7 linked regions of the Homo sapiens genome follow. The protein of the gene in region 1 interacts with the protein of each later gene in a pairwise test. Each region holds a gene or a part of one and is shown in the gene's direction. Other genes may lie near its edges. The genes, in order: LAMP2, CAPN2, SUCNR1, SNCA, DLX3, EPM2A and MAGEA8.

Region 1 (3,500 bases):
CAGCAGCTCAAGCCAGTTTTCCTTTTCTTTTTAGACATACACGAATTTATCCAGAGGAGTGGTATGTAGCAGAAGAATCAGGGACTGGTTTACACAGCAAACCAGGCAAAGGGCAACCTGGCCATGGAGAATGTATGATTTAGGCTGAAGTGGCATGCCCTACATAAATGCTTGGTGTTCCTTGCTGCCTGTTTGTTTCTCACCCCCAAATTTCTATTTCTTTTAGAAAACTGTAACCATTTCAGACCATGGCACTGTGACATATAATGGAAGCATTTGTGGGGATGATCAGAATGGTCCCAAAATAGCAGTGCAGTTCGGACCTGGCTTTTCCTGGATTGCGAATTTTACCAAGGCAGCATCTACTTATTCAATTGACAGCGTCTCATTTTCCTACAACACTGGTGATAACACAACATTTCCTGATGCTGAAGATAAAGGTAACCTTAAGAATGGATTTGTGTTATGTTCTCTTGCTTTTTATTAATGATAAAAATGTAAACAATTTTAAAATTGTTATGAATGTCTGTCTTCCTAACTAGCATGGAAACTTCATGTCTTTATAACCCTCCCACTGACCCCATGCATGGCACATATGACACCATCCAACATACTGATGATATTTGCTGTCATTGCTTGAGTGACTTACTGTATACCAGGTATTATCCTAGTATACAGTAAGTCACCTTACTATATATATCCTAGTATACATATATATGTGTATATATATACATATATATGTATATCCTAGTATATATGTATATATATATATACACATATATCCTAGTATATATATACACACATATCCTAGTATATATGTATATATATATCCTAGTGTGTGTGTATATATATATATATATATCCTAGTGTGTGTGTGTGTGTATATATATATATATATCTCCTAGTATACAGTAACACACCTAGTGTGTTACCTGCAGCATCTCACTTAATTCTTAACAGCAACCCTGGGAAGTAGATGTTGTTTCATTTTTACAGGTAAAGGAAATGAGGCTTGATAAGATTAAATGACTTTTCCAAACATCACACAGTCTGGTAAGTGGGCGAGCTGGTGTTTGAAGCAGTCTATTGACCTGCAGAATTCATATACTTAACTATTATTGATTTCATTCAGTAGTGTGCATGAAACAAAGGTTTGATGAATGAGAAAATGCTTTACTAATAGCTACTTTATTTTCAAGATCGGGGGTTGGGGGGGGTGTCTCACTATGTTGCCTAGGCTGGTTTTGAACTCCTGGATTCAAGCGATCCTCATGCCTCACAGCCTCCTGAATAGCTGGGACTACAGGCATGCACCACTGTGCCTGGCTACTAATAGCTATTTTAAATGTGTAAAAGTTAAGTAACCTGAGACTAGGAGAAATGCCTCTTGTTCAAATCTTTTTATCATTTAGGTTGGATTTTGATTGAAAAGTAAATGATGATTAGTTAAAGGTGTAGTAGTCCCTCATTACACTCAGGGGGTATCATTCTAAGATCTCCCGTAGATGCCTAAAACTGCAGTTACTACTAAACCCTATACAGGAAATGCTATGTTTTTTTTTTTTTTTTGATCTGATAACTGACATGGCTACTAAGTGACTAACGGATGGATAGTGTAGACAACGTTGATATACTGGACAAAGGGATGATTCATGTTCCTGGTTGTGCAGAGCGGGACAGCAAGAGATTTAATCATGCTACTCAGAATGGCGTACATTTTAAAACCTATGAATTGATTACTTTTGGAATTCTCCATTGAATATTTTCAGAGCTCAATTGACCATGGGTAACTGAAACCAGGGAAAGCAAAAACCGTGGATAAGGGGAGACTAAAGTCAACATTTGCTGTTATTTTAAGACAATTTCAGGTCAAAATGAACTTGGGAAGCATTGGCAATTAGGCCATTCTAGTAATTCCCAGAACTGAAATGCGTGTTAAAATATTTTGAAGATATAGAGTGTAGAGATTTTATTTTATTTTATTATTTTGAGCTGGAGTCTCGCTCTGTCGCCCAGGCTGGAGTGCAGTGGCCTGATCTCGGCTTACTGCAACCTCCGCCTCCCAGGTTCAAGCAATTCTCCTGCCTCAGCCTCCTGAGTAACTGAGATTACAGGTGCGTGCCACCACGCCCGGCTAATCTTTGTATTTTTAGTAGAGACAGGGTTTCTCCATGTTGGCCAGGATGGTCTCGAAATCCTGACCTCACGATCCACCCACCTCAGCCTCCCAAAGTGCTGGGATTACAGGCGTGAGCCACCGCACGTGGTCGAGATTTTAATTTTGTTAGGGATATAATTCTCTTCTTTCTCCCCCTGCCCGTTGAGATTGAGTTAATGTGGTATTTGTAGTAGCTTAGCTCTTTGCAGATAGTGTTTCATTCTGACCCCAGAAACAGGTAGATGGGCTTTAGTTGCCTAGACCTGGGGATTAATAACTCATTTGGACTTAAGGATGTCAAAAGATCCTATTCGAAAGAACCAGAAGTAAATAAGCTCACGTAAAATTTGGGAGGTATTGCAGAATGAGACTTGGAAATCAAATCCTAGTGTTCTTTTTACTAATCTCTTAGTTTGAGAGTATAACTAAAGCAAATGGTTATTGGCTATCTTATCAGTTTATCTTTGTGCCCTGTTTTGCCTTTCAGAGCTAGTATAAGATATGCCCCTCACTTTCAAGTAGCCTAAGAATGAGCTGGGGAGACAAAGCTAAATGCTATTCCCGAGTTACATGGAAAAATTGGAAAACATTGAGCTCAGTCTGATTTTGTTGTTGTTGTTTGCGTTTTTGTTTGAGGGAGTAGAGGGTTCATAAATCTCTTCTGACAGTGTGAGGAAAACTTTAGACTCCCTCTCAAAAAAGAAAAAGTACACAGTAAACTTTGCATATGGAACATAGTCCCTGAACCCATATGTAGATCCCTGTGGTTAAGAGTGCCTGATTTAGGTCGAGAATGGTAGCTCATGCCTGTAATCCCAGCACTTTGGGTGGCCGAGGCAGGCTGATCACTTGAGCCAGGGAGTTCAAGACTAGCCTGGGCAACATATTAAGACTTTGTCTCTACAAAAAAAAAAAAAAAAAAAAAGCCAGGTGTGGTGGCGTGTGCCTGTGGTCCCAGCTACCTGGGTGGCTAGGGTGGAGGATCGCTTGAGCCCAGGAGGTTGAGGCTCCAGTGAGCTGTGATCCCACCACTACACTCAGCCTGGGTGACAGAGAGAGAGAGACCCTGTCTCAAAAAAAAAAGAAAAGAAAAAGAAAAGACTGGCTGATTTAAAAGTGTTCCCGTGTTCCCACAAGTGGTCCTGATTAGGAGGAGTGATAAAGGAAGGCTCAGTGTGTGTTAGAGTAGTGAGAAAGCTTGGTAGAGAAGTAGGACCTGAGCTGAAACTCAGCTAATGGTAGAATTTGAGTAAGCGGAGGATTTTGAGCAGGATGTTTCCAGCAGGGGGAAGCATAGCATATGCGGCAGTAATTGGAGAGCTGCCTGATTAAATCAGGCTGT
Region 2 (3,500 bases), on another chromosome or scaffold:
TGAGGGCTTCGAAGACTTCACCGGAGGCATTGCTGAGTGGTATGAGTTGAAGAAGCCCCCTCCCAACCTGTTCAAGATCATCCAGAAAGCTCTGCAAAAAGGCTCTCTCCTTGGCTGCTCCATCGACGTAAGTCCAGGCTGCCTTCCCTAGCCTCACCCCATCTGCTCTTGCTGAAGGGAGGCTCCCACAGTGCCCAAGGGAACCCACTGCTCCTGTGTACAACGTAATGCAGCCCTCGTCCACGTAGGGGCCAAAGGAAAACCTCCCTCCACCCTCTGAAGGTCCGCTGAAAATCAACTGGCAAAAGGAAGACTAATACAAGAAATGGCATACAAATGTATGAATGTGGACAGGGGAGAATCACAAGAGATTTCCCTACCACGCATTGGGATACAGAGGGTTATATTCCCTTCCTCTTAGGGGAAGGGAGATGGGGAGGTGCGGATGATTTTAGGGATGTCGTAAATGATTTTTAGGGGAATTCATTGGGCTTAAAGAACATAAATGGTCTGGGATAAAGTCTGTTGGGCCTGCAGAGCAGACAGTGGTTTGTGACAAGTCTGTCTAGCCATGTTGACAGACTTGTCTTTCTTCCTGCAATATGAGTTCAGTTCATAATAACTCATGGAAAGGACCAGACGTCATTGTTTTCATCTTTGGCAGGTCCAGACTTTAGGCAGGTGAGGGAACTTCAGAGAATAGCTTCCTCCTGTGCTTTGGGGGAGAGTGGATCGAGAGACAGAAGGAAAGGGGAGGTCAGAGAGATCTTGAGGCTTCTTCAGTTTAGCATTTCAAAGTGCCATCTCTTAGAGGTATTGGTTTCTGAGCACCCCAGTGTCTACCATTATTGCTCATCACCTGGAAGCCAAGGGTTGCTAGGCAAAAGTCAAGCTGTCTGGGGTGTAATGGATGGGGTGATGGTGCCTCCAGCCCTTCTGTCTTCAGTCCACTTCCCACTCTTAGCCTGCTCTGAATCACCCCCACCCCTCTGACCACAGGTTCCCTGGGAGCCCCTGCCACCTGCTGCCCCTGCCACCTTCCCCTCCATCTGCAGTGCTGTGCAGCCTTCCCCTGCACTCTTGCAGAGCTAATAGGCCCGTGGGAGACTTCGGAAGGAAGAGGAGGAAAGATTTCCTCATAATAGCCTTGCTGGCAACGCTCACCAGGGGATGGGAGGTGGGCACTGTGCCCAGGAGCCTTGGAGCAAAGGCTGTGCCCAACCTCTGAGCCCTGTCCCATCCAGGTTCTGGTCTCTGCGGGGGACAGAGATAAGAAGCCCTGGCTTTTGGAGCCAAAATCTAGGTCAGACTCCCTAGGCAGGAATTCTCAAAGTTTATCAGCAGAACACGTTGAGGCAGAAGACCCTTTCTGCTCCAGCCCTTCTTCCCAGGCTCAACCTTCATCAGAATAGATAGGGGAAAGGAGAGGCTGTGAGGCGTTCTTAAAACAGAAGCAAATTCTGACTCAGACCGGAATAAACAACCGTCCTAGTATAAACCCTACAGCTGGGCTGGGCCAGACCACGGAGCATGGGCTGGTGGTGGGGCGAGGGTGTGCTCAGTGTCCCTGGGCCACTCAAGGCTGTCTGGGTATCAGCCCTGCGCCATCGAGGACCCCCTCCGGCCCTCTCTCGGCCGTGCGCCCTTTCCCTGCGCCATCGAGGACCCCCTCCAGCCCTCTCTCGGCCGTGCGCCCTTTCCCGCCCTTCCCAGCCTGCAGAAATCCGTGGATGCGCTATTCACACGGGAATGCCTGTGCTCGTTCCGCGAGAGGGTTGCATTCCGCCTTTTCTCTGGTATTCTCGGCGTTCAAGCATTTGAACGGGGTAGGAAAGGTTCTCCAAGTGCAAGAAAGCGCAGCCCTGAGCCTCCCACCCCAGGCCTCGGCCGCTGCGCTAGTGCGTCCGGCGGTCCCGCCCGGCAGTAGGACAGAGGGAGCGAGGGAGTCCGGGAGGAAGGGAGAGCGGGTGCGGCCAGTCTGACGGTTGCTGTGTTTGCAGATCACCAGCGCCGCGGACTCGGAGGCCATCACGTTTCAGAAGCTGGTGAAGGGGCACGCGTACTCGGTCACCGGAGCCGAGGAGGTAACGGCCGGCGCGGATGTGCAGGGGTCCTGCTGTCCTGACACGATGGCCACAGGCACAGTTTGTGGTGATGCCCAGGGGCCCGCGCGGCCCCACGGTGGTCCAGTTTACACTCGGGCCCCGCACTCCTGAAGTTCCGCGCGGGAGGAGAAGGGCGTCCCTTTCGCAGCTCGGGCGCCGGGTGCGCCGCGCTGCCACCTGGTGGCCGCAGTGGCCGGCGCCAGGGGCCCTGGTTTTACTTGTTTTAGATGTTACCCTGTTTTACAGTTACAACCTTACTATTTTGATAAGCTAAAAATAATAAAACAATGCATCTTCATAGTGTTTTATACTCTATAAGGTGCTTTCTCTTTTGATCTCGTAAAAGTATTCGTGCCCATGTTCAAATCTGACTGCCTCTTACCAGCTGTGTGGCCTGGGCCAATTACTGGAACTCTCTGTCCCTTAGTTTCCTCATTTAAAAAATGGAAATAATGATAATATCCATTGGAAGGTCGTGGCGATTCAATCAAGTTAATATATGTAAAGTGCTCAGAGGTGACTCACACATCATATATAAGGAGGTAGCTGTCCTTGCTGTTGTGATCACTGTTGTTATTGAAAATATTATGGGCTGACATGGTGGCTCACACCTGAAATCCCAACACTTTGGGAGACCGAGGTGGGAGGATCACTCGAGCCTAGGAGTTCAAGACCAGCCTGGGCAACGTAGCAAGAACCTGTCTCTACAAAAAAAAGTTAGCTGGGCATGGTGGCATGCCACTGTCGTCCCAGCTACTCGGGAGGCTGAGGTGGGAGGATCACTTGAGCCCAGGAGGTCGAGGCTGTAGTGAGCCATGATCATGCCATTGCACCCCAGCCTCAGCGACAAAGTAAGACCATGTCTCAAAAAAAAAATTATCAAGCAACTCAAGTTCACTGTTAATTACAGAACCCAGTCTAGACCGCAGATCTTCTGCATGTCCAGTGTTCTTTTTTTAACCTTGATTTTTTTAACTACCCCCTCACACACACACGTCTTTTTATTTGAAAATTTTCACGTATACAGAAAAGTTGAAAGACTAACATAATAACTATCCAATTGCCACTCCCCTAGATTCACCGATTGCTAACATTTGCCATGTCTGCTTTATCTATGTGTGCACTTTTTTTGAGCCATATGAAAGTAAGTTGCAGACGTTATGACACTTCCCTCCTCAATACTTCAGCATTTATTCCCTATGAATAAGGACATTCTGTTACATAATTCCTCTACTGTTGCCACACCTAAGAAAATAACATTAATTCAGTAGTGTCATCTATTATAAAGTCTATACTAACATTTTCCCAGTTGCCCAAAATGTCCTTTCTGGCGACCCACCCCAACCCCATCCAGGACTCAATCCAGATTCACTCACTGCATGTGCCTGTTATCAC
Region 3 (3,500 bases), on another chromosome or scaffold:
CCTGGTAGATATTTAATTTTGCCTTATACAAATGTGTTTCTAAACTACAGCTACTACTACTACAATTACTAATTTTTAATACTTATCATATTATATTATATATAGTGTTGACTTTCACAGTGAAATAAGCAATGAGCTTAATCTGATGGTCTTGCTGCTTATCTGGCCTTGGAGAAAATATTTATAAAAATGCTTTGTAAATAGTCAGGTGTTCATATTCATCTCTTCACTCAACAAAGATTTATAGATCACCTACTATCTGCTGGTCACTGTGCCAGATGTGGACAATAAAAAATGAGTAAGACAAAGTTATACAAAATTCTAAGAAGTTTAGTATACAATGAAAGCATAAATGGGAGGACCTACTTTAGACTGAGGGTCAGACAGCCTACCTTGGGAAACCTACACTTGAACAGAGGCCTGAGAGAAGTATAGATATATGACAAATATGTGATGGGCCAGGAATCACAGGACAAAAACAGCAGTGAAAAGAGATTCAGATAGAGGGACTGCATGTTAAGAAGGCTCTCTGTGCATTCAAAGAGCAGGAAGAAAGGAAGATGAATTAGGAGGAGAGTAATGCCAAGCAAAATTGAAGTGGGTGCAGGGGCCAGATCATGCAGACCTTGATGTCCCCATTAAGGATTTTAGACTATATTCCTTGGATAGTGGAAAGTTAATTAAGGGTTTTGATCAAGGAAAGCTATATGATCTGATTTTGAGTTGTAGTTTTTCAAGACTGTTTAGCTATAATGGTAAAGATGAACTGATGAGGGCCAGAGAGGATGTGAGGAGACAATAGCAGAATATGACATAGAGCAAAATAGAGATAAGAGTAGCCTGGACGAGAATGATAATGAAAGCTATAGAGCAGTAATGATAGATTTGAGAAATACCCAGACATTACAGTAAACAGACTTGGTAGTTTATTCATTACTGGTGTTGAGTTTTAGATGACTTTGAGGATATTGCTTAGATTTTCGTGGTGAGCACCTGGATACATGGCAGAACCATTTACTGAAATTGGTGGATATGCTGCAGGCTTGGTAAGGAATTTGGAGAATTTGGTGTAGGATTTCTAGAGGCAGAGACATCTGAGAGAAATCAATCAATGGCAATAAACAATTATAGTTTGTAAGGCAGATACAAGCTGGGCTGGAAATCTGGGAGTTGTTGATGTATAGTTGGTCATTAAACCTCAAAAGTGAATGAGATCATTTAGGAAGAATCTATGAAAAGAAGGAGCCCAGAAATTAGCCTTGAGGAACTCAACATTTATTGCTTGAGCCAAGAAGACTTGAGCCCCAAAAGTGCCTGCAAAGAACAACCAGGGAGAAAGAAGGGAAACTAGGATATTGTCATGTCTCAGAAGGCAAAAGAAGAGTGTTTCCAGAAGACAGAGTATGAAAAACAACTGATAAATAAAATAAGATTAGTGAAAAATGATTATTGGAATGAGCAATGTGGAGGCTACTTGGAGGACTGGTAGGTCCGAAGCCAAATTGGAGTAAGTTGAAAGGGAATGGGGTGTCGAGATGTCAAAACACTTAATGAGATGGCTCTTTCCAGAAATCAAACTATGAAGAGGAGAGGAACACGTGAAACTAGGGAGAGTTGTTTATGTTGCTCCTTATTGTAAGATTGAAATGATGAGAGTGTTTAAATTCTAATGGAAAAGAGGACATGAAGACTGACGATGAGGAGAAGAATGCTGAAGAGTCAGAAAAGAAGAAATAATGGTACCATGGGAATACTGAGAATTTGGGAATGAGTTGGATCTAGAGTAAGCTCAACAAATGCTCTCTATCTCAATGAACTAGGAGGTAAAACCATTTGCTAATAATGAGTAAGGTAGAGTAAATGAAAAAAGTTTTAAGAGATAAAAAAATATGAAATTGAGAAATATAGGAATATGCTGGCAATATGAGAGAGCGGTAGAATTAGGTGACCTCAAAGACAGAGTGAAACCCATCTGCTTTATTCTTCAGCAGCATTCATGTGTCTGCTGCTTGAGAAAGTTTCCACTCAGCTTTGTCTGGAATTGGACTTAGTGGCAGGTTGCCATAGAGAGATTCGAGAGACTCCGAAAAATGTATAATGTTTTAAAGTAAGTGATTAAAAATAACTTTTCAAAATATTAAACTTATATCTACAATTCTGTGACTTATTTTCATAAATAAAACACTCTCAAAATAACAATGATCTTTAACTAAAGTAAACCACTTGAATTTGACAAAAATACATGAGTTTTCCAGATGCCTTATCATAGCAAATTCTACTGAATTTTGCATGCTTCTCATAAAAAGCAGTTTAGGTGCATTTATTCTTATTTTGTTCTATTTACCAAAATTCTAAATTGAAAGAATTGTTTGTTTGCAACTAATACTCAGAAGCCTACTTGACAAAGAGGTTTTTAGAACATTTTGTTTTCAACCTTGGTTTTCCTCACTAGAAATAAGTAACACTTAATGTTTAACAATGGCAATCCAGTACTTTTTTCAGATAATTAAAGTTCTTGAAATACCCTATCCAATCACAATCTGGCCTCTTGACAAGAGTTAAAAACAGTAGGTTAGCAAGACTCTTGAGGTTTGAGTGAGTCAGGTTGCTTATTTCCATGGTACATATTCAGAAGGCATTACAATAAAGGTCTTTCACTAAGCATATGACCTAGGCAAATGCCATGGTCTTAATATTGGTGTCTCCTCAAAATGTATGTTGGAACCTAATAGTATTAAGAGGCGGGGCCTTTTGGAAAGTGATGAAGCCATGAAGACTCTACCTTCATGAATGGGATTGGTACTCTTGTGAAAGAAGATTAACGGAGCTGCCTTGCCCCTTCTGAAATTGTTGTGAGGACACAGCAGCCACCATCTTTGGAGCACAAGGTGACTTTTCATCAGACACCAAATCTGCTGATACCTTGATCTTGGACTTTTCAGTCTATAGAACTGTGAGAAATAAATTTCTTTTTTTTATAAATTACTGAGTCTGAGGCATGGCATCTTTCAATAAATCATGACCAATGTTAATATTACTAAGATTTTCAGTTTCATATTTTGAATTTTTAAAAATTAAGTTTTAAAACTGAAGTTGTATCATAGTTTATGAATTTAATACAATAAGCAGAATTCTTTGGCAATATGGAAACAAGTAAAAGCTTAAAATAGTGAGACTGAAGTTCTAAAAATTCTTATTTCCTCTTCTAGGTTATGGTTTAACTCAGCAGAATTTGTTGAACAACTACGACATGCTGGGGATCATGGTATGTTTAGAGACACAAAAGTGAATTCAAAATCTTCTCTTCAATTATTTTATCATACGTTCCCTTTGTTTCTTTGCTATTTGCCAAGCCCTCTATTTGTGTTTCCACCTTAATGCCTTCACATGTGCTCTTTCTTATGCCTGGAACACTTCCTGCAAATATAGATATGTCTCTTTCACTTTCTTCATTGAGGTTTTTGTTTAAATGTCATCTTGTATAAAAGCCTCTCCCTTAT
Region 4 (2,781 bases), on another chromosome or scaffold:
CAGTACCAAAAACCTGTCATTGTCACATTTCTCTTTCATTAGTGCTTAGTGAGAATCATTTGCTCTCTACATGCTCATTACGTGGACAACTTGCAAGTTAAGAATAGTTTTTACATTTTTAAAGGGTCCTTAAAAAAAAAGAGGAGGAGGAAGATGAAGAAGAGGAAGAAAGGATGTAAAAGAAATCATATGTAGTCCACATAGCTTAATATACTTACTACTTGACCCTTTACAGGAAAAGTTTACTAACCCCTGCATTAGAGAATATATTTTTAGAAACTTTACATTCTAAAATAAATTTCTAAATGGAAAGTTAGGGAAATCAATGGAATGCCAAAGGAAGGTTATTATTTTTTGCCATACATGTCCAATGGGATGACGCATAGTAAAATAAAAGTTACCCACACAAGTTATAGAATAAAAAGATAAATGCATGATTTGCGACAATTGATATATTCCAGTATAATGTTTTAAACAACACAATATGATTGTTAATTTTATTTTGATTGAAAATGAAAGTATCTTTAATAGAAAATGTATCAAAAGGGAAATTAGAAAATACTGTTAGATGAATAAAACTGGCCCAAGAAGAAACAGTAAATCTGAATAGATTTGTAACACAGCGAATAGATTAAATTAGTAATAAAAAAAAAAACCTACCTGCAAAGAAAATCCCAGGCCGAGATGGCATCACTGGTAAATTCTACCAAACATTTAAAGAGGAATTAATACTAATTAGTTAACACCAATTAATATCTCTTACAAAACAGAAGAGGAGACATTTCCCAACTAATTTTGTGAGACCAATATTACCCTGATAATCAAAACCAAATGAAGATATCACAAGAAAAGAAACTATATAATGGCTCCATTAAAAATTGAGTTCAAGTATGTTGTAGTTTGGTTATGTATTATTCCTCACGGCATTATTAAAAGGCATGTCGAGGATGGGCACAGCAGTTCACACCTGTAATCCCGCACTTTGTGAGCCAAAGTGGCCAGGTTACTTGAGGCCAGGAGTTGGAGACCAGTCTGGCCAACATGGTGAAACCCCATCTCTACTAAAAATACAAAAATTAGCCGGGCATGGTGGTACACGCCTATGGTTCCAGCTACTTGGGAGGCTGAGGCATGAGAGTCACTTGAACCCAGGAGGCAGAGGTTGCAGTGAGCTGAGATGGCACCCCTGCACTCCAATCTTGGTAACAGAGCAAGACTGTCTCACACAGACACACGAAAGGCATATTGATAATAATTCAACTTATAGAAATTGAGATTAAATTGTTTGTTTGCCTAATAAGAATTTCCAATATTTTGGGGTCTTTTATGCAAGACACAGTACTAAACACAATGGAAAACTATAGAGTAATTGACATTACCAGGACATAAGGAGTTTACAGTCTGGTAGGTTTGATGAAAAAAAATAGAAATTCATTCATTCATTTCTTCATTATGATTCCTTTAACAAACATAATTGATTGTCTTCGATGTACCAGGCATCACAGGAGCAAAAATATATAAGACATACTAAAAAGTAAAACATTTTAAAGATCTGTTTCAATCAATCAGGAGAAGTTTTATTGAGGAGGTAATGTTGATCTGGGTGGGAAAAGGTAAGAGATATAGTAGGTCAAAACAAACAGAGGACATTCTGGCACAAGGGAATATCAGAAGCAAAGGCATGTATGTCTGAGCATGCAAATGGATATGTCTGAGAACAGTGAATAATTATGACTCAAGCTTAGGAACAAGGAAAATGGTGATAGATTGAATTTGCAGCTATGGGTCAAAGACAAGTTATAGAGTATTAGGATAATCTTGTCATTTCAGCTTGTATTCTATTCAGAAAACAACTTGAGTTATTGAAGTTATGCTTATTTGTTTGTTTTTAAGCAGAATCCTGATATTATTAGAGTTGCTCTTTAGGAGGAATAATCTGATCCCTTTAATTAAATCCATTAATATTTGTGTTGTGGATGCTATCCAGATACTGTATGGAGAGCTTGAGGTTTGAAATACAAGTAATAATTGAAGCCATAGATGAAGACGAAATTTTCAACTGGGAGAGTGAAAGTAGGGAAAATGTATCTTGCCTTCAAACATCTTAATTTCCTTCTGAGAATTAGAGCATCTTAGTCTGGAAAAGGCTTTATAGACAGCTTGATTTTGTTCTCACATTTTACAGGTGAAGAAACTGAGAACCAGACAGTCCAACTTATTTGTCCTACCAAACTAGGTATATGATCATTAAATGGTGCATCCGGATCAGAACCTAGATATTTTAACTCTGACTACTACTGTAATTCACTTTTATATCAGACAAGAAAGACACAACTATTAAAAATAAGATAATATTTGCTGCAGAATATTTGCAAAAACATTGATTGTAAATTTTAGTGTAAGTGGGGAGCCATTTCCTATCTCATTGGCTGTCAGTGCTGATGCGTAATTGAAACTTATACTAACAGTGTGTGCTGTCTTTTTGATTTTTCTAATATTAGGAAGGGTATCAAGACTACGAACCTGAAGCCTAAGAAATATCTTTGCTCCCAGTTTCTTGAGATCTGCTGACAGATGTTCCATCCTGTACAAGTGCTCAGTTCCAATGTGCCCAGTCATGACATTTCTCAAAGTTTTTACAGTGTATCTCGAAGTCTTCCATCAGCAGTGATTGAAGTATCTGTACCTGCCCCCACTCAGCATTTCGGTGCTTCCCTTTCACTGAAGTGAATACATGGTAGCAGGGTCTTTGTGTGCTGTGGATTTTGTGGCTTCAATCTA
Region 5 (4,104 bases), on another chromosome or scaffold:
CACAGAGGGGAGCCATTCTTCAGGGCTTTTCTGGTGCAGGAGGAATTCAGTGGAGCAGTACAGCTCCCAGCTACTGGAGATGAGGAAGGTACTAAGCGGTCTAGACACATCTGCCTACAACCACATGTTCACACGCGGATGGCCCTCCACTCATGCTGCCTGCACCCCGCCCCCGACACACTCCTGCATGCATGTACCTCTGTGGATACTGTGGAACACATGAAATCCTCACATCACACACCCCAAATACACTCGTCCCATGCACCCAGTCCCCAAAAGTGTCCCAATTCCCCAGTGCTGTCCCATGATACACAAAATCTGCCCTCAGACTTACTGAAGCACACAGTCACAGAGCCAGCCTGTGTCCACCCAACCTCGTGGGGACCCCAGGTCCCTTGCTACCTTCAGCAAGACTGGGCCATCTGTGAAACTGCACATACATAGCTTTGGAGATAGTTCTGGTATCACCGGACAGGCTGTACATCCCCAACAACCTCTAAATCCACACAGGTCTGCTTCCCCTTCTCCAATAGGATCCTCCTAGTGCTAAATTATGTCTTTCATAGGCTCAAGACATTCTTGCCCGGTGGGCACCTTCCTAAATAAAAAGAAAATTTTTTAAATTACGTTTTTGTAATTATGTAATACAAGGATATAATAGCAATGACTGCATTGCTATTAAGATAATATATTAATATCATATATTCAAACATTCTCTTTCACCTAAAAGGTGTTTTCCTTTTCTTCTGATTTTAAGAGAAACCATTTTCAGGGGCTGTGAGTCCTCACCACTTTGGGTACATTTGTGTGCCTGTCATTTGCACAGTGCGTGCACACGTGTGCACACACACACAACCATACCCCACCTTAGACCATCTCTTTCCACAAACACACAATGGGCAAACTCCCCTCCTTGCCCACCTCACCTAAGCCCATCTCTCATCCCCCAGCCAGAGAAACAGACTGACAGATCCTGGGGGCTCCACAGAGCAACCCTTCCCCTCCACCTCCACGCCCCTCCTTCAGAGAACTTATCTGGGCTGGAGCTACAAGAGTAGCGAGGGTGTGTGTGTGTGTGTGTGTGTGTGTGTGTGTTTTGAGTAACAACAAAGACTGGGGAAAAAGAAGAGAGAGGAGGGAGGAGAGAAGGAAAAGGGAGAGAGAGAGAGAGAGGAGAGCATAGGAGCGAGAGAGCAAAAGCGTGTTTTGCCTGGAAGGCAAGACTTGCAGCCAATCAGCGCGTAGGAGCCTCCCTCGGCGACTCCACTATTGAGTCTATAACCGGCTGGCCGGGCGGAGCTGGCAGCATTTGATTGTGGCTTGGGACGCGAGGAGAGGCGCGCAGCGACCGCCTGACGGCAGGCAATGGTGTAAGCGCCTCTCGGCCTCCCCCTCCCCCCAGACGCGGCCGGGTCCTCCCTTCGCCTTCTGGACACACACCCCTGCCTCGTCTCTTCCGCCTCTCTCGCACTCCGGTCCGTTCCTGTCCTCTGCGGAGGCCAGCCCTGGGGAGGTGCAGCGCCCGCCAGGATGAGTGGCTCCTTCGATCGCAAGCTCAGCAGCATCCTCACCGACATCTCCAGCTCCCTTAGCTGCCATGCGGGCTCCAAGGACTCGCCTACCCTGCCCGAGTCTTCTGTCACTGACCTGGGCTACTACAGCGCTCCCCAGCACGATTACTACTCGGGCCAGCCCTATGGCCAGACGGTGAACCCCTACACCTACCACCACCAATTCAATCTCAATGGGCTTGCAGGCACGGGCGCTTACTCGCCCAAGTCGGAATATACCTACGGAGCCTCCTACCGGCAATACGGGGCGTATCGGGAGCAGCCGCTGCCAGCCCAGGACCCAGGTGAGGGCCACGGGGTCGCGAGGACAGTGGGAGACACTGGAAGGTTCCCGAGGGAGGAAAAGGCATGGACTGGAAGCCAAAATCTAGGAAAACTTCTAAGAAAAGTACTGTCTGGAGTTAGAGAAGTTGGCCTAGATGACCCTCAGAGGGACCAGGCGACCTTCCAGCCCCGGGTGTGCAAGCATTTGGGGCGCGATGTGCGCAGTGCGCCGCGGTCCCGGATGAGGATCGGGATGAGCTGAGAGAGGAAGGGGAAGGCTGTGGGTTGTTAGGAAACCTCCGAATCGAGGTGATTTCGTGGGCATTTCAGCAGGCGATCCTCGATCAAGTCGCAGAGGGCTTGGGGGTAGGCGGCAGGGGCTGGAAACTCTAGGGGCCCTCCTTTGGATAAGGGATGGGGAGACTAGGAGTCGTGAGGGGGCAATGAGAAGGACCCACGGAAGTTGCGGGAAAGCGGAGGGAAGCAGCCACCGAGAGGCAGAGAAGCTGAAAAAGGGAAAAGTGAAGGCAGCAAGAGGGAAGTATGGAAAGACAGTGAGAGAAAGGGCAGAAGAAACAAGAAAGGAAGGAGAGAAGGAAGGGGGGAAGAAGGGGGACAGGGAAAGAAAGAAAGTCTGCACTATCCTTGCAACTTTTCTGAAAATCTAAAGAGATTCTAAAATGAAACTTTTTTAAAGGGCGGGGGGCGGACGGGAAGGAGCGAGAGAAACAACCGACGGCGAGATGGGACTGGGAAGGGGGCGGCTAGCAGCCGGGCGGCGAGGAGCCCCGAGGCTGGGAGGCGAGCCGGGAAGGCGTCGTGAGCGAAGCCGAGGCGGTCCTGGCGCAGGCGGCGGCTGGCGCCGGGGACAGTGCTGCGGCGGCCGGGCGCGGAGCTGGGAGCGCCGCGTTGTGGGCCGCGGCCAGTTCTGGCTCTGGGGCCGCGGCTCCCCCCTGGGCCGCGGGCAGCGGAGCGCGCGGCCGGGAATCCCGCGGCGAGTCGGTGGGCGGAAGCGAGGGGCGTCCGGCGGGGCCCTGGAGGGTCGCAGGAGTCGCAGGCCGAGGCTGAACCGCCCCCTCTTCCGCCCGGTGCGTTCCCCGCAGTGTCGGTGAAGGAGGAGCCGGAAGCAGAGGTGCGCATGGTGAATGGGAAGCCCAAGAAGGTCCGAAAGCCGCGTACGATCTACTCCAGCTACCAGCTGGCCGCCCTGCAGCGCCGCTTCCAGAAGGCCCAGTACCTGGCGCTGCCCGAGCGCGCCGAGCTGGCCGCGCAGCTGGGCCTCACGCAGACACAGGTTGGTGTTTGGCTGTCCAGGGCCGCGGGGGCGCGCGGGACCCCGTAGTTCCCCGCGCGCTGCCGAGCCTGGCTGGCCACTGAAGGGCCCTGCGGGCTCCTGGAACTCTTGCCTTTGGGATGGGGGCCTGCGAGGTTCAACTTCGGTGGGAAGGTTCTGCGTTAGCACGTGTACAAGTGAGCATAGTTGTGAACCCGTGCAACTGTGTATGTTCCCCTACTCCAGAATTCCCAGCTCCCAAGTCCCCCAGCAGTGCTAGTCACTTAGTAGGAGTCCACATCGTGTTTTCCCTCCAGGCTAGGCATGTGTGCAGACTGTCTGTGTGCATGTATAGGCGAGTGTGTTTGCACACATGCTGTGTGGGTCTGCATGCACCGGAGGATGCTCATGTAAGGAGTGTGATCCTGCCGGGGTCATTGTGCATAACGATGGGGGCATGTGTGTGTGACTGTGCGCCCTGAATGTATATGCGTTCTGAATGCATGTTCAGAAATGTGTGCTTGCATCAAAATACCACATTCCTGCTCAGCACTTGAACGCTCAAGAGAGGCCAAATTCCCTACCTGAAGGAGATGGGGACTCAAAAGTGAGTGCCGCACCCCCACCCTCATCCAGTCCCTAAAGCCCCCAGCAGCCTGTCACTGCTCAGGGGAGGAGCAGTGGATGCCTGGCTCCCTCCAGGTGTTGACAGGCGGGCCTAGGTTGTGGCTGTGGCTGCGTGGGGCCCCATCCGCCGGGAATCTGGGTCACCTGGTGAGGAGCTGATTCATTGTTTGTACCAGTCATGGGGTGGGGAGTGGCAGGGGGAGGGGGAGATACCCCAGGGGAAATTTGGGGAATCATGGCTCACCTGCTCCTGAGTCCCCAGGTCACCCCCATTATCCAGCCCGAGCCCAGGAGAACTTCTCCACACCTGAGTGTGTGAATGTGGGTGCTCATGTTGTGGGGTGCTTATCTGGGTGTATCTGTGTCTGC
Region 6 (2,716 bases), on another chromosome or scaffold:
GCCAAGAGGCCGGCTGTCTACATTGACGAAGAGGCCTTGGCCCGGGCACAAGAAGATTTTTTCCAGAAATTTGGGAAGGTTCGTTCTTCTGTGTGTAGCCTGTAGCTGGTCAGCCTGCTTCTGCCCCCTCCTGATTTCCCTAAGGAGCCTGGGATGATGTTGGTCAAATGACCTAGAAACAAGGATTCTACCTGAACTGAAAGGACTGTGTGACCTCCCCCAAGCCAACCACTTTCACCTGGGATGACTTTCGATTATGCTTTGTTTTGGGGCTGTATTTTTGAAATACTCTACAAGAAAGCTGTGGCTCAACACATGAGAAGAAGCACGAAGCAGTTAGGCTGTACATCAGACAGAAGGGTAATGCGTGCAGTTCCTGCTGCCTGCAGGCAGACGAGGCCTTTGCTTTACAGCACTGTATGTGTTGCACGATGGATCCGTGACAGCACTTTCCTGTTGCACTGAAACTCTTGGCCATGTAGAGGAAAAGATATGGAGTTATGTGGATTTCATCACTAGTATGTGTGCGTGAGCTGGTCAGTTGCCAAAGGAGGAAATAAGGTTAGAAGCCTGAACCGTTACAAAAGAAGAGCTCACTATGGTCAAAAAGTGATGGCTTTCAGGACTTGTTTTTTATCCTGCCTCACAGTTGTTAAAGTCTGTTCCAAGGCATCACCTTCCTTCTCTACCCAACAACCCTGTGTAACAACTAAAGTAGAATTATCTCTCATTTGTTGTTGTTTTTCCTCAAAATTACCAAACAAAGCAAAAAATACCCTTGTTTTTTATAGTTGAGATGTCAAGAAGTTAAATTGAGGCTTAATGAGCATAGGTAGCTTGTCCAAGGTCTCATGACCAGTCAAGGGCAAGCTGGAGTTAATAATCTATATTTATTTGACTCAGCACTGTTTTCATCACAACTTGTTTTCCCAGCATCATGTAGTGCATTTAGTTTTGTCTTTCTCAGGGTATAGTCAATATGCCTGCAGGAGTTTCTATAGCGAGACATAGAATAGTATTCTGATCAGTTGCCAAAGAATCTAGGAAATTAGTTGTATTTTGTGCAAGCTAATTTAAAAACATGATGGGCTGTTTTAAGACCAGAGTGGAAATTCATGAGAGGAACTATACTACCAAAAGAGCCCAAATGACCAAATCCATGGATAATTGCTTCACAGCCTTGGCCATCCTGGCTCAGCTCTCAATTTAGTATAATATGCAGTTCCTGTGCCTCCAGACTATGCAGCTCATCACCCTAGGTTCTACAGGAAATACAGAGATGAACAACTTTGCCTTCAAAAATGTGCTGCCTAGAAACAGACCTGCATTCAACCAACTGTAATGCAGGATTGGACCATGAATGATATGCTAGAATAGAAGAAAGAGAAGTGTTTTTTTAATTGAGAGCCTCTATGTGCAAGGTGATATATAATCATATCCAGTTTAATCTTCACAATATCCAATGAAGAAGGTCTCATTATCTCCATGATAAAGATGGGGAAACTAAGGTCAGAAGGGTTAACTCAACTGTCTATTGTCACATGATGAATAAATAGATGAAGTGAGATACAAAGCTGGGTTTGATTCAAAGCCCTTACTTTCCTAATTAAACTATGATGCGTATTTATTTTTCTGCACCTTCCTTTCTTCCACAAACACATATTGATAGATGCAAGAGACTCTTATTTAGAAGGCGTGGGGGACAAGAAGGATACAAGGTAAGTTTCAGTGGAGCTCAGAGGACGGGGAGATAGAACTGTGGCACTTAGGGGAGATGACATTTGCTTTGGGCAGAGGCAGCTAGCCAGGACACATTTCCACTATAATTTTACAAAGTTAAATTTATAAGCTAGCATTAAGTAAAGTGAAGTCCAGCTCCCTTGCTAAAAATAACTAGAGGTAATAATTGGTATTCAGGTAACTCATTTACAGTCATAATGTGTTGTGAAAATTTAATCTTAAAAATTAAATTTTTAAACTATGTGGGTCTGTGAATTTCTTTAATGTCTAAGAAATCCAGCTTCATAATTTCCATGATACAAAGATCTTTTTTCAGGTGGATTTTTACCTTTGTTCCTTTTGCTCTGATAGACAAAATCAGTTTAGGACTATTAAAGAATGTTTTGGAATAAACTGTCTTTTTCCTCAATGAATGGGATGTCTAATGTATTTCAAAATCACCCAAAACTTTTGGCAAATAAAAGCATTTAAAAAGACCTTTCTGTACAGGATTTTTAAAATGTTATCAGCTTAGTCTGAAATCTAGAAGGACAAATTTTGTTTCCTTATTTGTAAAGGGGGCAATCCACTGAGCTAAATTGTTTATTTTTCTTGTCACTCTTCCTCTTTCAATTAAACGATCAAAATTGGCAGTTACATGATAAAGGAAGTCAAAGGTGAAGGACCACAGAGAAGTGAGGATGAAAACTTAGAGTGTGTCTGAGAAAATCAAAGCAGATATTATGCCATTAGCTGCTTGTCACTGGTGTTTAACAAAACTTTTCAATCACGGATTTCTCAAAGGCAATCATGAGAAGATCTCATTCATGGTGAAGGAAAGTCTGAATGAGGTGGTTTTCTTTCAGACTTGAAACATTATCTTTCTATCATTCTGCTTGCCAGCATTAGGAAAAATGTAAAACACAACACAAAACACTCTCTTTTGACCATCATTAAGGTGTGGTAAAAATCACTTGGCTTGGTGTAAGAAATAATG
Region 7 (3,931 bases), about 29 Mb from region 1:
TTTTAAAGGACCACCCCACATCAATGTAGGATCCGAGTCTGCACCTCAAAACACGAAGCCAGTAGCCCAGGGGTAATATCAGGACACCAGGAAAATTGGATTGATTGAGACACCATGGCTCCAGAATTCTGCTAATAACAACTAGAAACAAAGAGTAGGTTAGGACTACCTTCCAAAATACTATTATTTTAATCAAATATATATAATGAACTAGAAATAGAATAGTATGAGTGAATCACACATTGTATGAGTAGATATTGTTTGATAAAATAAGTACGTATAGTCGACATACATATATGTATAAATATATGTAAAGATATATACACATACATTCATATAATTACACATATATAATATAAACATATACATACATATGTGTTTATGCATATAAACATAAATATAATGCACATATACAATTGGCATAGATTTAAAATTCGTTTCTTACTATACGAATGCGAATTAAATTATGAAAATCACTAAAGTGGAATAGGAATTGTTAGGTAACTTCAAAACTCAGGACTTCCACAAATTTATTGCAGCTACTCAGTTTCTTCAGTGTAAAAATAAATCATTTAGTACAAAAGTTTTGCAAAATCCTCTTCTAGCTGGGGAAGAGCCCCCGTGGGAAGGTGTGCCTCTTCTCCCAGAGGTCACTACAATCTTAGGTGCTGCAAACCCACAGGGAGAATCTGGCCTGGGACCCGCAGCCATTCTCTGCAAGGGGTGCAGCTGTGCAAATGCTCAGAGGTGACAGAAACAGAGTATCTCCTAAAAGAGCCAAGAGTCAAGAAGAGGACCCTCCTGAGTGAGGACTGAGGGTCCACCCACACCACATAGAGGGGCCACATAATTCAGCTCAGACCCTCATGTCAGCCCTGAAAGACCCCAGCAGCCTTGTCCCCCCACCACACCCTTCCCCCCACTGCCACCTCAGGGGACTCGGAATCAGAACCTTGGTCTGAGGGAAGCAGACACCATCAGCAGAGTACGGAGCTCCAGGCTCTGCCAGATCTCAAAGTGAGAACCTTGAGGGATGACTGAACCGCTCCTCCCTCATCCCCCGCCCCACTAGAATCCGGTTCCGCCCCTGTTGTCCACCCAGGTGAGCCCTGGGTGGACGGATGTGACGCCACTGACGTGGCCGCGGGGATCAGAGAGAAGCGAGGGCCTGGTTCTGAGGGGTCGGCTTGAGATCGGCTGAGGGAAGCGGGCTCAGGGTCTGTGAGGAGGCAAGGTGAGACCCTGAGGGAGGACTGAGGAGGCCCCCACCCCTCATATAGGACCCAAAATAATCTAGCGCCGCCCCTGCTGCCAGCCCTGGACCACCAGGGGGCAGACTTGTCTGGCTGGGCCACCCCTCGCCAGCCCTGCGCTTAAGCCCCAGGGGAATCTGGAGTGAGAGCTTGGTGTGACCAGAGCAGGGCTGGTTAGCAGAGGGCAGGGCCCAGGTTCTGCCAGGCATCAAGGGCAGGACCCTGAGGGAGGGCTGAGGCTCCACAGAGCACATCTCTGCCCCTACTGTCAGCCCTGGGAAGCCCTAGGCATGGCGGCCGGGCATGGCGGCCGGGCATGGCGGCCGGGCATGGCGGCCGGGCATGGCGGCCGGGCATGGCGGCCGGGCTCGCTGATTCTGACGTCCGCATCCGGGGCTGATGCAGCAAAGGGGCTTCATGAGCACGGACTCAAGAGGAGCAGAGGGAGGGCCCAGGCTATGCTGGGAGATGAGGAGGCCCGAGGGGACCCAGGACCCCAGGACAGGGGGCCCACCCTACCTGTCTGAGACTGAGGGGCCTCCACATTTGGCCTCAGGAATCCGAGGGACTGAAACTCAAGTCAGCAGGGGGGTGGTGAACAGCCCTGCCAGGAGTCAAGGAGAAGAAGAAGAGGGAGGACTCAGGGGTCCTTGGACTCCAGATCAGTGGAGATCTCAGCCTTGGGAAGTCCCAGGATCTGTGGCTGCATGTGGCGCATCCTTGCTGCATTTTCAGGGTGTCAGAAAGGAGACAGCTGTGGTCTGAGGAGTGGAGTCTCAGATCACTGGAGAGAGGTGCCCCAGAGCCCTTAAGGAGGACTCAGCAGACCTCCCATCATGGCCTAGGAAACCTGCTCCCACTCTCAGGTCTGGGCACCCAAGGCAGGACAGTGGGGAAGGGATGTGGCCCCCCCACTTTCTGGTAGGGGGCCTCAAGGAGATGGTGGCCTTGGCATGCAAGACACATCCACGGTTCAGCAGGAAGGAAAGGGCCATGCCTTGTCGTGGAGTAAATATGAATACCTGGATGACACCCAGACAGAGAAAGACCCCATGAAACCTACTACTTCTGTCAGCCGTGGGAATCCCATGCAGGGTTGTCCATGTAGTGCCTCCTTACTTCTGCCTCCTGGGTCTCAGGGAGGTAGCAACCTGGGTCTGAAGGGCGTCCTCAGCTCAGCAGAGGGAGCCACACCTGTTCAACAGAGGGACGGGGTCACAGGATCTGCAGGACCCAAGATGTGCTCACTTTGTGATGAATGGGGGTACTCCTGGCCTGGAAAGAAGGGACCCCACAAAGTCTGGCTAACTTTGGTTATTATCTCTGGGGGAACCCGATCAAGGGTGGCCCTAAGTGGAGATCTCATCTGTACTGTGGGCAGGAAGTTGGGGAAACGCAGGAAGATAAGGTCTTGGTGGTAAGGGGAGATGTCTGCTCATATCAGGGTGTTGTGGGTTGAGGAAGGGCGGGCTCCATCAGGGGAAAGATGAATAACCCCCTGAAGACCTTAGAACCCACCACTCAAGAACAAGTAGGGACAGATCCTAGTGTCACCCCTGGACACCCCACCCAGTGGTCATCAGATGTGGTGGCTCCTCATTTCTCTCTTGAGATCTCAGGGAAGTGAGGACCTTGTTCTCAGAGGGCAACTCAGGACAAAACAGGGACCCCCATGTGGGCAACAGACTCAGTGGTCCAAGAATCTACCAAGAGTCTAGGTGACAACACTGAGGGAAGATTGAGGGTACCCTCGATGGTTCTCCTAGCAGGCAAAAAACAGATGGGGGCCCAACAGAAATCTGCCCGGCCTCTTTTGTCACCCCTGAGAGCATGAGCAGGACTATCAGCTGAGGCCCCTGTGTTATACCAGACTCATTGGTCTCAGGGAGAAGAAGGCCTTGGTCTGAGGGCACTGCATTCAGGTCAGCAGAGCGGGGGTCCAAGGCCCTGCCAGGAGTCAGGGACTCAGAGGACACCACTCACCAAACACACAGGACCGAACCCCACCCTGCACCTTCTGTCAGCCATGGGAAGTGCAGGGAAAGGTGGGTGGATGGAATCCCCTCATTTGCTCTTCCAGTGTCTCCTGGAGATAGGTCCTTGGATTAAGGAAGTGGCCTCAGGTCAGCCCAGGACACATGGGCCCCAATGTATTTTGTGTAGCTATTGCTTTTTTCTCACCCTAGGACAGGACACGTGGGCCCCATTGCATTTTGTGTAGCTATTGCTTTTTTCCCAGGAGGCCTTGGGCATGTGGGGCCAGATGTGGGTCCCTTCATATCCTTGTCTTCCATATCAGGGATATAAACTCTTGATCTGAAAGTTTCTCAGGCCAGCAAAAGGGCCAGATCCAGGCCCTGCCAGGAGAAAGATGAGGGCCCTGAATGAGCACAGAAAGGACCATCCACACAAAATAGTGGGGAGCTCACAGAGTCAGGCTCACCCTCCTGACAGCACTGGGGTGCTGGGGCTGTGCTTGCAGTCTGCAGCCTGAGTTCCCCTCGATTTATCTTCTAGGAGCTCCAGGAACCAGGCTGTGAGGTCTTGGTCTGAGGCAGTATCTTCAATCACAGAGCATAAGAGGCCCAGGCAGTAGTAGCAGTCAAGCTGAGGTGGTGTTTCCCCTGTATGTATACCAGAGGCCCCTCTGGCATCAGAACAGCAGGAACCCCACAGTT

The links.
Region 2: the proteins of LAMP2 (region 1) and CAPN2 interact in binary tests that used the Homo sapiens proteins (3 or more experiments, as listed by UniProt).
Region 3: the proteins of LAMP2 (region 1) and SUCNR1 interact in binary tests that used the Homo sapiens proteins (3 or more experiments, as listed by UniProt).
Region 4: the proteins of LAMP2 (region 1) and SNCA interact in binary tests that used the Homo sapiens proteins (3 or more experiments, as listed by UniProt).
Region 5: the proteins of LAMP2 (region 1) and DLX3 interact in binary tests that used the Homo sapiens proteins (3 or more experiments, as listed by UniProt).
Region 6: the proteins of LAMP2 (region 1) and EPM2A interact in binary tests that used the Homo sapiens proteins (3 or more experiments, as listed by UniProt).
Region 7: the proteins of LAMP2 (region 1) and MAGEA8 interact in binary tests that used the Homo sapiens proteins (3 or more experiments, as listed by UniProt).

What each region holds. Positions count from the first base shown.
Region 1 is NC_000023.11:120,452,297-120,455,796, reverse strand, and holds part of LAMP2 (lysosome-associated membrane glycoprotein 2 isoform A precursor), read left to right. Parts: intron 1-226; coding exon 227-440; intron 441-3,500. UniProt on the Homo sapiens protein: Lysosomal membrane glycoprotein which plays an important role in lysosome biogenesis, lysosomal pH regulation and autophagy.
Region 2 is NC_000001.11:223,747,039-223,750,538, forward strand, and holds part of CAPN2 (calpain-2 catalytic subunit), read left to right. Parts: coding exon 1-127; intron 128-2,000; coding exon 2,001-2,084; intron 2,085-3,500. UniProt on the Homo sapiens protein: Calcium-regulated non-lysosomal thiol-protease which catalyzes limited proteolysis of substrates involved in cytoskeletal remodeling and signal transduction. Proteolytically cleaves MYOC at 'Arg-226'.
Region 3 is NC_000003.12:151,876,643-151,880,142, forward strand, and holds part of SUCNR1 (succinate receptor 1), read left to right. Parts: intron 1-3,209; 5' UTR 3,210-3,250; coding exon 3,251-3,265; intron 3,266-3,500. UniProt on the Homo sapiens protein: G protein-coupled receptor for succinate able to mediate signaling through Gq/GNAQ or Gi/GNAI second messengers depending on the cell type and the processes regulated.
Region 4 is NC_000004.12:89,726,381-89,729,161, reverse strand, and holds part of SNCA (alpha-synuclein), read left to right. Parts: intron 1-2,501; coding exon 2,502-2,534; 3' UTR 2,535-2,781. UniProt on the Homo sapiens protein: Neuronal protein that plays several roles in synaptic activity such as regulation of synaptic vesicle trafficking and subsequent neurotransmitter release.
Region 5 is NC_000017.11:49,992,425-49,996,528, reverse strand, and holds the start of DLX3 (homeobox protein DLX-3), read left to right. Parts: upstream 1-1,304; 5' UTR 1,305-1,530; coding exon 1,531-1,855; intron 1,856-2,938; coding exon 2,939-3,129; intron 3,130-4,104. UniProt on the Homo sapiens protein: Transcriptional activator. Activates transcription of GNRHR, via binding to the downstream activin regulatory element (DARE) in the gene promoter.
Region 6 is NC_000006.12:145,624,805-145,627,520, reverse strand, and holds the end of EPM2A (laforin), read left to right. Parts: coding exon 1-105; 3' UTR 106-1,796; coding exon of another isoform or gene 1,797-1,826; 3' UTR 1,827-2,216; downstream 2,217-2,716. UniProt on the Homo sapiens protein: Plays an important role in preventing glycogen hyperphosphorylation and the formation of insoluble aggregates, via its activity as glycogen phosphatase, and by promoting the ubiquitination of proteins involved in glycogen metabolism via its interaction with the E3 ubiquitin ligase NHLRC1/malin.
Region 7 is NC_000023.11:149,880,052-149,883,982, forward strand, and holds the start of MAGEA8 (melanoma-associated antigen 8), read left to right. Parts: upstream 1-1,131; 5' UTR 1,132-1,234; intron 1,235-2,316; exon of another isoform or gene 2,317-2,447; intron 2,448-3,019; exon of another isoform or gene 3,020-3,298; intron 3,299-3,770; exon of another isoform or gene 3,771-3,931. UniProt on the Homo sapiens protein: Not known, though may play a role in embryonal development and tumor transformation or aspects of tumor progression.